Homo sapiens: one gene and its partner. The protein of the gene in region 2 purifies or fractionates together with the protein of the main gene of each other region. This does not show direct contact. Each region holds a gene or a part of one and is shown on either strand. Other genes may lie near its edges.

Region 1 (7,032 bases), about 27 Mb from region 2:
TAAGCTAACGTAAAGGCACAGTTACCAAGTGATTTACATATAAACATTATAATAATCTTGCTATGTCTGGCTTATTAAATGCATTAATTAAAAACTTATTTCAGAATAGTATGTATTAAAAGTAAATACCTTTAGTGCACTAAGAACAGCAGTAAATATGTTAAGCTGCACAGCCTGCTGGCGGACACCTTTAGCTTGTTTAACACATTCAGCAAAGTGATCCAACATTTGTAATCTATAACAATAAGAAAAAAAAATCACATTAGTGACAAATTTTATTCCAATATGGCTCAAAAACGGATAAGAAGAGTACAAGTTAATTGTTTAGCAAATAATTCCCCATGCTATCTCTTTTCTATTTCATTCCCACAGCTAGTCCAAACCAGATCTCCTTCTCCCAAAATATTATATGGACATGCGGTTATTAAATGGAACAAGAAAAGAGTTTCAATTAACAAAATAAGGTCACAATTGCAGTGGTCTTCAACATTAACAGCACTGTCCAACAAAGCGCCTGGCATCTAGTAGACGCTCAAGGTTTCTTGCAAAGATAACAATCATTAATTATGTATCTCCGTGGAAGATTTTTAAGTTAGAAAATTTTAAATGTAGTATAATTCTTTTTCCTATTTTAAAAATACTCTTAGAATAGTACCTCATGTCCTAGCCTCAGAAGCTTTTGGGAAAGTTCAAAAAAGATTTAGCTTTGGCTAATTTTTTTAAATGTAAAAAACCAGAAGTGAATTGTTTTTTATATTAATAAAAAAGAATCAGTTTATTAAAAAAAAAAAATCCATGGCCATCTTAGATGATTTCTCTGTTTTTTTTTTTTTTTTTTTGAGATGGAGTTTCGCTCTTGTTGCCCAGGCTGGAGTGCAATGGCGCGATCTCGGCTCACCACAATCTCCACCTCCCAGGTTCAAGTGATTCTCCTGCCTCAGCCTCCCGAGTAGCATGCGCCACCACGCCTGGCTAATTTTGTATTTTTAGTAGAGACTGGGTTTCTCCATGTTGGTCAGGCTGGTCTCGAACTCCCGACCTCAGGTGATCTGCCCACCTCGGCCTCCCAAAGTGCTGGGATTACAGGCGTGAGCCACTGTGCTCTGCATTTTTTTTTTTTTTTTTTTTTGAGACTGAGTTTCGCTCTTGTTGCCCAGGCTGGAGTGCAATGGTGCAATCTTGCCTCCCTGCAACCTCTGCCTCCTGGGTTCATATGATTCTCCTGCCTCAGCCTCCCGAGTAGCTGGGACTACAGGTGTTCGCCACTACACCCAGCTAATTTTGTATTTTTAGTAGAGAAGGATTTTACCATGTTGGCCAGGCTGGTCTCAAACTCCTGACCTCAGGTGATCTGCCCACCTTTGCCTCCCGAAGTGCTGGGATAACAGGTGTGAGCCACAACGCCCGGCCCATTTCAGAAGATTTTGATAAAAAGAGAGTGAGAGAGCATTCTTCTAAAAAGAAATGATGTGAAACAAAGGAATCCAAGGAAGTTGGATTTAGTACTAAGACAATTATGACCTCAAGTTGGTAATAAAATCTCCCTGAGGTCGCTGTAAGGATTTAAAGCTCAATTTATACTAGTCTACAGGTCTCAGGTCTCAGGTCAAAGCATTATTCAAAACTCATATGAAGATACAGATTCAGATGTACGTGTATACATGCACATTTTGATGTACTTTAAAAAATTCTTAAAAGTAAGTAAGTACCTTTTGTGCACTAAGAACAGCAGTAAATATATTAAGCCGCACAGCCTGCTGGTTGAAAACCAAAGTAGGATCACTTCTTGCTTTTTACCTTTTTAATTTAACATTGTATCATGAGCATCTTCTATCAAAACACTGTCTCTACAAAAATGGACTTTCTATTATTTATTCACTTATCCTCCTACTGTTGAATATTTATGTTATTTATTATATGTTTATATTTTTAATAGAATTTATTTATTTATACTTCATCTTATTCTGTAAAAGTGATCATACAGAATTGAGATAATCCTGGATTTCAGTTATAGCTTTCATAACTAGTTGTATAACCTTGGGTAAACCAAACTCTTAGATATGGATGTCCTTAAGATTTAAAACCAAAATGTTGAAATAGATGCTTTATAAGATTCTTCCACCTTTAACATCATTTAACATTTATGTGGCAACCAAATGTTCTTAAAGATATTTGGGTAAAGTTTCATATTTAAACTTTTTTCTCCTCAAATTAAAAAGCAATTAATCAAGCAACCTACATATTAAAGACATTTTTTATTTTGTAATTTTTGTAGAGATGAGTGTCTCACTATGTTTCCCAGGCTGGTCTGAAACTCCTTGCCTCAAGCAATTCTCTTGCCTTAGCCTCCCAAAGCGCTGGGATTGCAGACATAAGCCACCACACCAGACCCAACAATACTTTTAAGGCATTTTAATTTTGTAAAGCTTTTAAGTTATCTGTGATGGTCTTGTATTAATTCATTTCTGTTTTCCTTTTGGGAAAATCACAATATACAAACTGCCTACTAAAGCTAGGAATAGTGTCTGTGGATACAGAATATACCAAACCAAAATGCTTCTATTACAAAAAGAACCAATTATGTTAGTTTCCAAGTTCTAGACTTGAACCATCTCACAAACGTTATTAGTGATTGGAATTTTCATCCATTTACTTCCTCAACAACAAAGTCAACAGGCTTAGCAAACTGATGTCCTTAATTTAAGATATAGTCAAAACCTATGTATGAACTATCAAACAAACTATTATAATGCATTTTTTTTTTTGCCAACAGTTGTCATTCTAGCATATATAATGAAAATTTTGTTATAAAATACAGTCCACAATACAACAGATATCAGATGCTAGTACACAGGGTCAAATCTTACATAAAGTCTCAAATTATGTGCAATTTGCATGCAATTTTTTTATCATGTATCTGTCACTTACATTAGTAAATCTGTAAGAGTACTGTTTTAAGTATTATAATAACTCACTTTATTGCAGAGTTAACTGGGATGAGAAAATCTACTTTTCGTTTAACATAATATATATTTAACAAAAATTACCTGATTGACTTTATACTAACCGGTGTTTATAAGAAACATGAGGAAACACTACACCAAAAAGGGCCACAGAAGCATCAATGACTGAGACTCCGAGAGGGAGGGGACCAGGTACTGCTTCTCCAGCAGGTATGCGTAAATAAATAGAGGAAGGATCATGCTCCAGAGCCCCACTTCCAGAGGCACTGTTTGGCTGGAGCTGCAAAAGAGTGAAATAAAAATTATTCAAAATCTACTTTAGGAAATCTACTTATTAAACATTGGGAATGAGGATTACAGCAGAGGAGAAAGGAGAAAAGGCAACAAAAAAAGAATGATTGGATCCGAACATTTGAAAACAGACCAAAATGTAATTTGGTCATTAAAAAATCATCAGTAACACCTTATACAAATTTTAAGAAAAGCTTTATTCATTCGAAAACATATTTACACCACCCACCTTATTGCGTGAACAATATACACAAGATCTTAATCCCACAATTATTTTAAATGGGGCTTTAATCACTCTTTAAAAAGTACATAAGAAATAATGTATTCAGTGGGCAAAAGTTCTAAATCTTCAACCTACTAACTCATTCCTCTCCAACCTGTCACAAAACAAAACAAACTAAAACAAAACAAAATACCAATAACCAAAAAGCCAGTTAAAACTGATCTTTATCACAGCCACCACAAGGTATCTAAATACACAGAATATTAAATAAAGACAATTTGCCAAATTCTCACTCTTCCTGTTTAACTTTTTTCACTATCTACCACCAGGATGCCATCTTTAAGTGTCTAAGAACACTAAATGGGGATTAAACCTTTCTATACACTATTTTCTTTTTAAGTGACAATGTGTAATAGGACCATTGTTTCAGATTAAGTTAGTATTTCATTTTCCTCTATGTTTATTACCTGGTCTTCAATTGATTTATGATCAGTTTCCTGAAGCCAAGAACCAAGAAGAACACTATCATCATAATGGCAGAGGGATCTGAGGAGGGAAGTAGTTGTGTTGGCTGAGTTGTCAGTCAAAGTGAATTCCGCTACCAGTTCTCTAAGAAGTGCATTAAAAGATCCTAAAAAACAGAACTTCAGATCAGATTAAAAAGAATAATTTTTGTGAAAATTATAATCATTGCCCACAAAGAGCTGCAACATGTTCAACAGGAATAAAATAATTAAGTCTCTGTTCTCTTCTTTAAAAAAAATCTATATTTAAATGCTGGTTTTAATATACAATAATGGTACTTCCTTTCATATATTGTATTGTGTCTTTTAGCCCAAATTATTTAAAATAACCAAAAAACTCAAATAGAGGAAAGAGAGGCGGGTGCCATAGCATGCTTGTAGTCCCAGCTACTCAGCAGGCTGAGGCAGGAGGATTGCTTGAGCCCAAGAGATTGAGACAAACCTCTGCAACACAGCAAGACCCTGTCTGAAAGACACACACAAACAAAGATACTTTATTTTAAATATATTAAATGTGATATGATTATTATTATTTATTGCCCAATAATGTACAATGAACCACAGCACACCAAAATTCTTTGGCATGATTATACTGGAAAGAAATCAATAGTTTATTTTACTATTAATATTTTACATAATATTTGATTTCTCCCTCCAGATCCTCGAATTATTTGCTATATTACAGTATATAGGAAGCATTTCAGTGTATTAATCAAAAGTGCACACTTTGAAGATAAACCAGCTAGATTTGAATCCAAGCTCTGCCACTTAACTACCTCTAAGTCTTGGGTAAGTTAAGTTTCTTTAAGTCTCTCAATCTGAGATTCTTCATCTATAAAATAGGGCTAAAGGCCTCATAAGTTGCAACACAGTCAAAAAGCTAATACAAAAGGCTGAAAACGAGACCCAGAACACAGTAAGGAGTCAACAAGTATCAGCTACTCTACATGAAGAAAAATAAAATGGTGGCCTTCCTTTGCACAGTAAGTCAGTGGGAGAGCCTTTGTCAAGACTCTATAATACGGTGAAGAATTGTAAAGAAAAATTTTTATCAGATACCACAAATTTTTAATTTACCTTCATAAGTTTTTGGAGGTAACAAAGCCAAGATATCATAAAGTCTTAAACGGACCATTGCAGCACTAGCTTTCAGATGAGCTCCATGGGCTTTCATTACAGATGGAATGCTAAAATATCAAAAACATAGTTGGTAATGGCTTACCAGAATAAGTATTACTTATAAATTTTTTTAGCAATGTATCAATGTACTGCCAAACTACACTGATAAGTATACACTTTCATTTTAGCTTATGTTGTGATCTTTGCTGTAACAAAAACACTTTAAGATACAACTGTATTTCAATCCACACCATTGCTGTAATTTTTAAAGTTATATTACAAAAATAAAGTTTTATGTTTCCTAGATGATTCTAGAAGAAAGCACAAAATATGGCTGAGAAGTATATTATTAATATATAAAATAGGATGTGAACTTGTCTCAATCGCTTACTTACTGTGACATCATAGTCATGGCACATTCAATAGGGGTCATCAATTTTCGAATCACATCTTCAGTTAGTAGCTCAGGACAATGTGCAACGAAGCTCCTCATGGCTAGATAAAATGTTTAAAAGGACAGATTTGGAGTAGCTTTTGTGAACATGAATTAATTTATAAAATTGTATAAATATAAAGGCAGTTGTAATACTTAATTATTATAACGTATAAGGTTCTGAAACCATGTCGAACCAAAAGAAAAACTTGCAACAACTACAAAGAAAAATCGTGGAAAAGGCTAGAAAAAAGGTGGATAGAAAAATGGAGGAAGAGAAGGTACTGGTTAGAGAGATTCTTCGGGTGGAAATTCAGAGGACTATGATCCCATAGGAATTCAGATGACTACAAAGAAAGAAATTTTAAGGCATTGTTTATACACATATACATTTATGTGTATAAACAATGCCTTAAAATTTACATGAAATTTTTACATATATTAAATATATTTTTGCAACTTTTACAGATATATATGTATATGTGTGTGTGTGTGTGTGTGTGTGTGTGTGTGTGTGTGTGTATATATATATATATATATTTTTTTTTTTTTTTTTTTGAGAGAGTCTCACTCTGTCAACCAGGCTGGAGTGCAGTGGCGGAATCTCGGCTCACTGCAACCTCCACGTCCTAGGTTCAAGCAATTCTCCTGACTCAATCTCCTGAGTAGCTGGGACTACAGGCAAGCACCAGCACGCCTGGCTAATTTTTGTATCTTTAGTAGAGACAAGGTTTCACCATATTGGTCAGGCTGGTCTAGAACTCCTGAGAGTGATCCACCCGCCTTGGCTTCCCAAAGTGCTGGGATTACAGGCATGAGCCACAGCACCCGGCCACTACATATATTTTTGCATTTTGAATTTTTACATATATTTGTGTAAATATATATGTATATAAACAAAAATGGTCCAGTGAGAAAAAAATATTTTTATTGGCCCCTTAGCAATAGAGCCTAGACTAAAACACCTCCTAGATGTGTGAGAGTAAAGGTGCCCCCTTGCCTGGCTGCCCTTGTGGTGAAACATGTATCTCTCTCCCAGTTTGGAAAAAGAAGTAGTTTTCACTCTGAGATAAACCAAAAAAGAACTGGTACATCCAATGTCATTCTAGTTATCAAACGAAACAAAACCTGAGCGTTTCCTGTAAGCTGTTAACTCCCAGACAAAAACAACTGTATCCGTTATTTTTGTAATGTTGATATCTGAAAAATATATGAAGGTTTGGAGATTTGATAAGGATGTGAAAAAACAGCTGTTTCTCCATTATGAAAAGACTAACTGCAAATGCCAATAACTTTGGTAATCCTGAGTTTCTTTTTCTTTAAATAGCTGTTGGGTATTTTTTCTTTTTTTTATACATGGTGACTCAGTGCTTCTTTGACAGGTAAGATAGCAACAAGTGGGAATAAGAGGCCTGGGTTCTAGTTCCTGTCTAACCACCAGGTCTAAACACTTTTTCAGAGTCTGGGTTTCATTTTTAT
Region 2 (7,887 bases):
CAAAGTGCTGGGATTACAGGTGTGAGCCACCATGCCCGGCCTTTAAACTTTTAATTTCATTGTGAAGAACTTCATGCAAACCTTAGGGAGAAAAAAGCCATAATGAATGAGCCAGTAACCATCACCCAGGTGTGTTAAATCTTAATCTCTTAACAAGTCAACTTCGGATTTTTTTTAAGGATATAAAGATATGTTTGTAAACCCATGGGCCCCTCCTAGATCCTTCATCCCTCTCAAGTTCTCCAAAGGTCACTTTTAGTCTGACTTGGTGTTTATCATTCCCATGCATGTTGTTATACTTTTGCTACATATTGCACAAATCACAGACAATACATAGTATAGTTTTGCATGAGACTATATAAATGGTCTAGCAAACGGATCTGTCACTTAACAGCTGTTTGACCTAAGGCAAGTTACTTAGTATCTGTGTGCCTCAGTTTCCTCTCTGAAAAATGAGGGATACTACTACTTACTGCCTTACAGGTTGTTGTGTGGATTGAGTTAGTACACTGTATATAAAGCATTTAGAAAACTATCTTGCTCATAGGAAGCAATATATATGAGCAACATATATACTGCTCATGTGTTAGCAATTATCATATAAAGCTGCAAAAGAACTTGTGACTATATCTGATATATGCACAAACTGAGAAAATGATTAGCAAAATGAGATATGTAAAATCCATACAATGCCAGATTTTCAAAATAGTGTAAAAACTAAAAATACTTATAAAGTTCCGGCTAGAAAGGTTCACTATTCTACTTAAAAAGGAATTGAAAGTGCTAAGAATAGAGGGAAAAACCTTTATTTTTTAATCTACAAAGTGTAGGTAACATTAAATTAGAATATAAACATTTTATTTAAATAATTTATGATGATTAAAAAATATCTAAATACTTAGCGGCCTCCTTTTATGAGATTTGGGGGAAGGGTTGGGAGAGAAGGGGCAATCCCTTAATGAGAAGCTATTCAAAGACTTTGCCTGCTGAGGAAAGCACTTTAGATTTCACACAAAATAAAACATTATTTGGTACTCAAATGTCACTACATTTCTGAACTAGTTTTTCACTAAATGTAAGCAGAACAAATGAAAATGTAAAATGATGTTTTATGATATGATTCACCCACACTATACAATTTTCATAACGAAAACTGGATTCGGCAAGATGTATCAAGGCTATTAAGGACATATTATCCTTGTTGTGATACGGGATTATTTTTTAACAGTCTCTAGGTCAAAAGATCAGCAAACATTAAAACTTAAATGCCCTACATATTATGTGAATTGTAGTGGATTTTTTTCCAGAGGTTTTTGAAGATTTAAAAATATATGTGTACTTTGAAGATCAACTGATATATCTAATTTAATCCACGGAGGAACAACTAGAGCTAATGAATATCTGCTAGGTGCCATTTACTGGGCTAGATGTTTTACACAAGATCTGTCTTTTAATCCATGTGAAATATCTTTATGAACAAAATTTAGGAGACTACCACAGATACTTTGTTTAAACAAATATACCTCTGCGAAGTGTTAAAAATGACTACTAAAAAAGCCAACATTTAAACTGGTAAAGCATATAAAATGTACGTGACTGTGTTAATTATATTAACATAATAATGTTGAAACATTTGTTGTCCCTAGAGTTTAGCATATATTTTAATGTCTAAGAGGTTAACTGAAAGCAACAATTAAGTGTAGCATCAAAGATAAACTCTGTGTCTCCCCTCCACCAAATAAAATCCTCGGAATAGGAGGTGGAAGGAAGACTTACACTGTAGGAAAAGTTGAAAACCAAAGTTCTACTTTACTTCTCCTAAAGTGAGAACTTTGAAACGGAACCATTACTTTTGTTTCATCCCCCCGCCCAGTAAAAAATTTACATGTATGAGTCAGTTCTTCCCTCGGCCCCAACAGAAAAGATTCAGTATAACCAAGCTATAACTTGCACAAAGCAACAAGGAAAAAAAAACCTTGCTATCCCCATTACTTTCCTAATAGAGCAAGGACCCTACCACCCCTCACTCCATACTCTGCCTCTGCCCCAAGCAAGACGCAGCACCTGCCAAACCAGGCACTTAAGGAATATGGTCCAACTTTTCAAACGCAAACTGGAGAGGAGACGCAGATAATTTCTTGAAGAGTGCAAGAAGACAGCAGAAAAGGTACTCTGAGGAAGGGATGCGTGAGCTTTGGGGCTGTCCCCTCTGCCTGTTGGAGGATTCCAAATTCGCTTGCTTCAGAGACCCTTGGAAGCAGCACACTCAGGTCGCGGCCAGCCTCGGGCCTCGGTGAAGGAGGCAGTGTTTACACCTGTCACGAGGGAGGGGGAAGGAGAGCGAAGAAGCCCAAGCAAAGCCCCAAACTTCTGAACAGCTCCCTGGAGAACGCAGCCAGCGCGGAGCTTTGGGAGGTGGAAGCAAAGGGGCAGGGAGAGCCGGCGGTGGCCGGGGAGGGAAGGACTCCCACTTACCCGGCCGGTGCCCGGGATGGCGAGGAGGGGGCCGTGCGCTTCGGGCGCCACCAGCGGCGTTCCCGCACTCGCCGCAGAAGAGAGCAGAGCCGGGAGCCCGCAGGCCCGCAGAGCCAGCTCCGTCCTCACAGCTCCCGGCTCCGCGGCGGGCAGATGCTCCCGGCCCGGGTGAGGGTCTGGCTGCTGGGCCGGGCCTGGTCCCCGCACCCTCTTTCCCCGGCGCAGCTAGGGGAGCGGAGCGGCGGCGCTTACCTGGCTCCTTCGGGGCGGCTGCGATGGGCATGGCTCAGGGGCCCGGGGAGGAACTGACTCCCCGGGGAAGGACCGTCTATTCCGACGCGGAACTGGTGAGAGCGGAAGGCCGGCTGCTCACAGCCCTGTCAGCGCAGCAGCACCATGGACGCCCACCCGGAGTTTCACCGCTGCCGCGGGACCCCCATCCCACTACCCTCCGCCCTCTTCCGCCGCCGCCGCCGCCTCCTCCACCTCCTCCGCGGAGACCCCCCGCCCACTCCACACACTCTCCCATCATGCAGCGGGGGAACCGCTGCCGCCGACACGTCACTTCCGGGCGCAGGTGGCTAGGTCGGGACCGGGCGCTGGTGGGTGCTGTGGGGTGGGGGAGGACACTCCAGGGGAATTGGTGTCACAGAACGCTTATCCCTGCGCAGGCGCTGTCGTGCAGAGCGCCGACCGCCATTTTGGGTGCGGGCAAGCTGCCCTTTCCTTTTACTTCCTTGCGAGTCATAGAGCTGTAGGGGGATAGACGTCTTCCCGCACTCAGGCGCCGGTTGAGGCTGCGCTCCTGGCGAAGGACAGGTGCTCCTTTCAGCCGGTTAACGTTCAGCTCAAGACCGGATTAAGTCTCTTGCTCTCCAAATAAAATTGTAAAGGTTTGGAAATATAGAACCACATTTTTACCAAAAACCTACTAGAGAGCATTCGTCAGCTTGCCCTTTTCGCCCCGAAAAACGACTTTTTCATTCACAGCCTGTCTCTTCCTCTTTTTAAATTTATGCCGACAGAGGAAGAAGCTGATATTTAACAAATAACAAGAGGTTGCGATAAATAGAATTTAAGGTGGGAAAGCAGCCGCCAAACTGACAAATCGTCTTCGAGACCGACAAGAAAATAGTAGTCCGGAATTTGGCTAATGGATGGAGAAGGTGGTCGTTTTTCATAGACCCTTACGGAGAATATCTAGTGAAGCTAAAGAGATCACCATAAACTTATGCATTCAAACGCATTTCTGGAACAGAGGTCGTAACCGATTTTGTTTCCATCATCAGTCCTGAACAGTTGATTATTTATATAATCAACTGTTATTTATATAAAGGTAATAAAAATATTACCTTTCCTCCTCCTTTACAATGAATATCTGTTAGAACACCTGCCAGTGTAACAATCAGACTACAAGGCTACAGGATTATGATTACTGTCTCGGATGATGAGCCCGGGGTCCTACAAATCATGACCCCCGCCGGCCCCTCATTCTGCCCATATTTGCCAAACGTCTGCATCAGTAATTTGAATAATTTAAAATAGTTCCAAAACAGCAAAGCTCAGCAGTTACGCAAAGAAACAAGAATGGAAAACATCCCCTCAGGCACAGAGAAGTGTCCACCCCTTTGGGTGGAGGAATTATACAAATCAGGAGAAAGATAAGGACAATAGCAGTTCATCACGATTTATCCCGCCTCTGCAATGTTCTAGACAAATTAACTCGGAGCGCTCCAATGGACCCGCATTTGTCTCTTTACTATTCAATCGCTGTAAGATATACGGAGACTGCATCACTTTAAATGGGAGTATCAATTGCTTTGTGGTTATGCTGGATTTTGTGTTATTGCTCAGTCACTAAAGTAAGAAAAATCTATATGGCTTGTCAAATTTATGCCTATTGTATTTCGCCCCCTGCTGGTTTAGCTCGTGTGCAAGCTTGAATTTGTGTGTGTGTAGAAACTAGAAATTGATTTTAAACGAACACATGCTTGTTTTCATTTTACAGCTCTACTAAACAGAAATATCAAAATAAGAACATATGACTAGACCTTAAAGCAGACCCTACACTAAGAACATGTTTAAACTAAATGAATTTAAACTGCACTCCAGCCTGCGCGACAGAGTGAAACCCTGTCTAAAAAAAAATTAAATTAAATTGCACACCCCCCATCAGCTTACAATTTTGTAATAGGGAAATTGAGTACCTATTTGGCCAACTAACTTGTAATTGGTAATCTTACATGTAATTCCGAAGACAGTGCCCTAATGCTCATGACATTTTATTACAAAGGGAAAGTATTTGAGTGTTTTTAAGGTGATAAATCTGTGGGAAATATAAAGTCCATTTCATTTGGAGTCAATGATAGTATTGTTTTTATTTACCTTTTAAAAATTATGGCCATAACTGCATTACCTAAGATTTGGCATCAAGAAAAGAAGAAGAAAAAAATTACCAGTTAACATTTGTTGTATTTACTTCTAGTTTTTTTTTCCTGTGCGTACTTTTTACAAACTTGTAATCATAATTTAAGTAGATTTTGTGTCCCTTTTGTGTTGTAAGCATTTCCACCCATCGTTTAATGTAAAACCTTAATTTTAATTGGCTGCTTAGTAGTCAATGGAATGACCACTATATGGATAGTTTTCAGTATTATAAAATAATACTTAGATGAACATTTTGTGTGTGTGGCTTTGTTCAATTTTAGAATTTTTTTTCTCAGTATAAAAGTTACTAAGCGAAAAGGCAATGAATGTTTTATTGGTAATTTATCATCTCATATTATTTTCCAAGAGACTGCTAATTTAGAATGCCACCAGCAATATATGAGTGCACTAATTTTACCACCTCCTTACCAACCAGCAGTGAATGATAATTAAGAGGGGAAAAAAAGATGGAAAGAATAAAAAGTGAAAACAGTTTAATTCATTTTATATTGTGTAAGAAATTAACAGACAAGCAAGAACAAAACCTCAGCAATGTGTTGGTGTTCTGGAAAAGCAATATGCGTAGAACCTGGGTCTATGACCAGTTCTGTTGTCACTATGATTTTGTATAAGTTACTCAACCTCTCTTGACCTCAGTCTCCTTATATAACAAATGAGAGAATACAGTCAGATCACAGGTTCTCAACCCTCTTAGGACAAATAATGTTTTGGCACATGTATCTCTTTAAGAATACGGTAAAAGCTTTGGCTCTTTCTATAGAAAAATGCTTGTATCCACAGACACTCAAATTTCTCATCCTAAAGCTCATTCACAGAAGAGGGTCTTTGAACCACAGCTTAAGAAATATGCACCAGATAATCGCCAAGGTCCTTTCTGTATCTAAACATTTACTTAAAATTTTATTTATTTATTTATTTATTTATATTTTTATTTTTTTGAGACAGGTTCTCCCTCCATTGCGCAGGCTGGAGTGCAGTGGTGCCATCACGGCTCACTGCAGACTCAACCTCCTGGGCTCAAGGGATCCTCCTACCTCAGCCTCCGAAGTAGCTGGGACTGCAGGTGCATGTCATCACGCTCAGCTAATTTTTTTATTTTTTGTAGAGATGGGGTCTCACTATGTTGCCCAGGTTGGTCTCAAACTCTTGGGCTCAAGCAATTCACCCACCCTGGCTTCCCAAAACGCTGGGATTACAGGTATTATGTCACCACTACCTCTTGAAATATGTCCTTCATACAGTTCTATAAAAATAGGTTATTAGGCTGGGCATGATGGGTGACGCCTGTAATCCCAGCACTTTGGGAGGCCGAGGTGGGCAGATCACTTGAGCCCAGGAGTTCAAGACCAGCCTGGGTAACATGGTGAAACTCCATCTTTACAAAAAATTAGCCAGGTGAGGTGGCATGCTCCTGTAGTCCCAGCTACTCGGGAGGCTGAGGTAGGAGGATCACCTGAGCCCATGAGGTCAAGAATGCAGTGAGTTGTGATTGCGCCACTGCACTCCACCCTGGCTGACAGAGCAAGACCCCTTCTCAATAATAATAATAATAATAATAATAATGAGCGACTTTCCCAAAGTGTGATGAGCAACAGAGATTTTGTTTCTTAATCATTCCCACTGATCTTTCTTGGATTTGCTTATCAAATTTATTGCATAAATAATAAAAATTACAATTTGGTGTTATAGTACTTCCTGGAGTACTGGATATCTAGAACTTTATGGACATATTCAATGTATCAGGGAAAATATTGAATATTTCAATATTTAATATGTCTTAACCTGTTAAGACAGTATTAATTTTATCCATAAAATTGGAGAGGTAGGGAAGAAACTGCTGTTTGACTACATTATTTCTAAAGGTGCTGAAACTTTTTCAGCAAATTTTTTAAAGGCTCAAATTCTGTATATAAAGTTCTAACAAATTTTATAGAACTTTCCAACGAAAAACTTTTGAAGGATGGGCTTCTGGTAGTGGTAATTGACCTGAATACGTAACATTTAAATCAAAGACCTCAAACTAATTTCCTAGATTTATCTAGACATATTCTTTTGCTACATGAGGACCAGCGTTCCACCCCCTTTGGAGGATTTGACAACAAGGTGCCATCTTGGAAGCAGAGAACAGCACGCACCAAACAACCAAATCTCTTGGCACCTTGATCTTGCACTTCACAGCCCCAAGGACTGAACCTGTACCCACTCATGGGCTTACCACATATGGAGCAATATAGATGGAGTGTTCTCCTGAAGGGAGCTGCAGCCCAACCTTCTTCTTTATTCTAGTCTTCAAGCCTCTCTTTTGGCTCTGAGCAAAGCTTTGAAGGGCTCATTATGTGCTATAATGGTTCCACTATCAACCTGCTATGTTGTGAAATTCAGCCTGATCACCTGGAGAAAACATGACCTTTCTGAGCAACTTGTCTCTCAGGAGAAAAGTCTCCTTTATTTTGAAGGAGATTGGCCTCAGGGCACTGTGGAAGTGATAACTCTATTTCTACTTTTGTCCCTTATTTCAAGGTGAAGAGAAGTGGAAACCTTGCAGTGAGTCATGACAAAAATATATAAAGTAAAACATTAAAATTAATTTCACCTGTTTCTTTTTACTTTTTAAAACTAGCTACTAGAAAATTTTAAATCACAATGTGGCTCACATTATATTTCTATTGTACAATGCTGAACCTTTGTTTAAAACCTACATCTGTCTTTAAATTTGTGTAGTCATAGGATCCAGGGAAATACAATAGAAATAGTTTTCATGCAATTTTAACAGTTGCATGAAGGCAGAGACTTCTGTCTGCTTTATTCATTTCTATATTCCCAACTTCAAGAAAGTGGCCTGGTACATGGTTGATGGCGATACATATTTATTCAGTAAATGACATTCCATTGAATGAGTGGCGTGGGTAGTTCTAGAAAAAAAAATTTAATGTATTTCTGTTTTTTTTGTTTGTTTGTTTGTTT

Evidence for each region. Proteins that work in one complex are often made in the same cells at the same time.
Region 1: the proteins of AFTPH (region 2) and HEATR5B purify together in Homo sapiens (affinity purification with western blotting; 2 studies listed by BioGRID, with this or other methods). This does not show direct contact.

What each region holds. Positions count from the first base shown.
Region 1 is NC_000002.12:37,053,373-37,060,404, forward strand, and holds part of HEATR5B (HEAT repeat-containing protein 5B), read right to left. Parts: intron 5,616-7,032; coding exon 5,516-5,615; intron 5,189-5,515; coding exon 5,079-5,188; intron 4,109-5,078; coding exon 3,945-4,108; intron 3,244-3,944; coding exon 3,068-3,243; intron 236-3,067; coding exon 130-235; intron 1-129.
Region 2 is NC_000002.12:64,519,453-64,527,339, reverse strand, and holds the start of AFTPH (aftiphilin), read right to left. Parts: upstream 3,013-7,887; 5' UTR 2,728-3,012; intron 1,828-2,727; exon of another isoform or gene 1,775-1,827; intron 1-1,774. UniProt on the Homo sapiens protein: Component of clathrin-coated vesicles.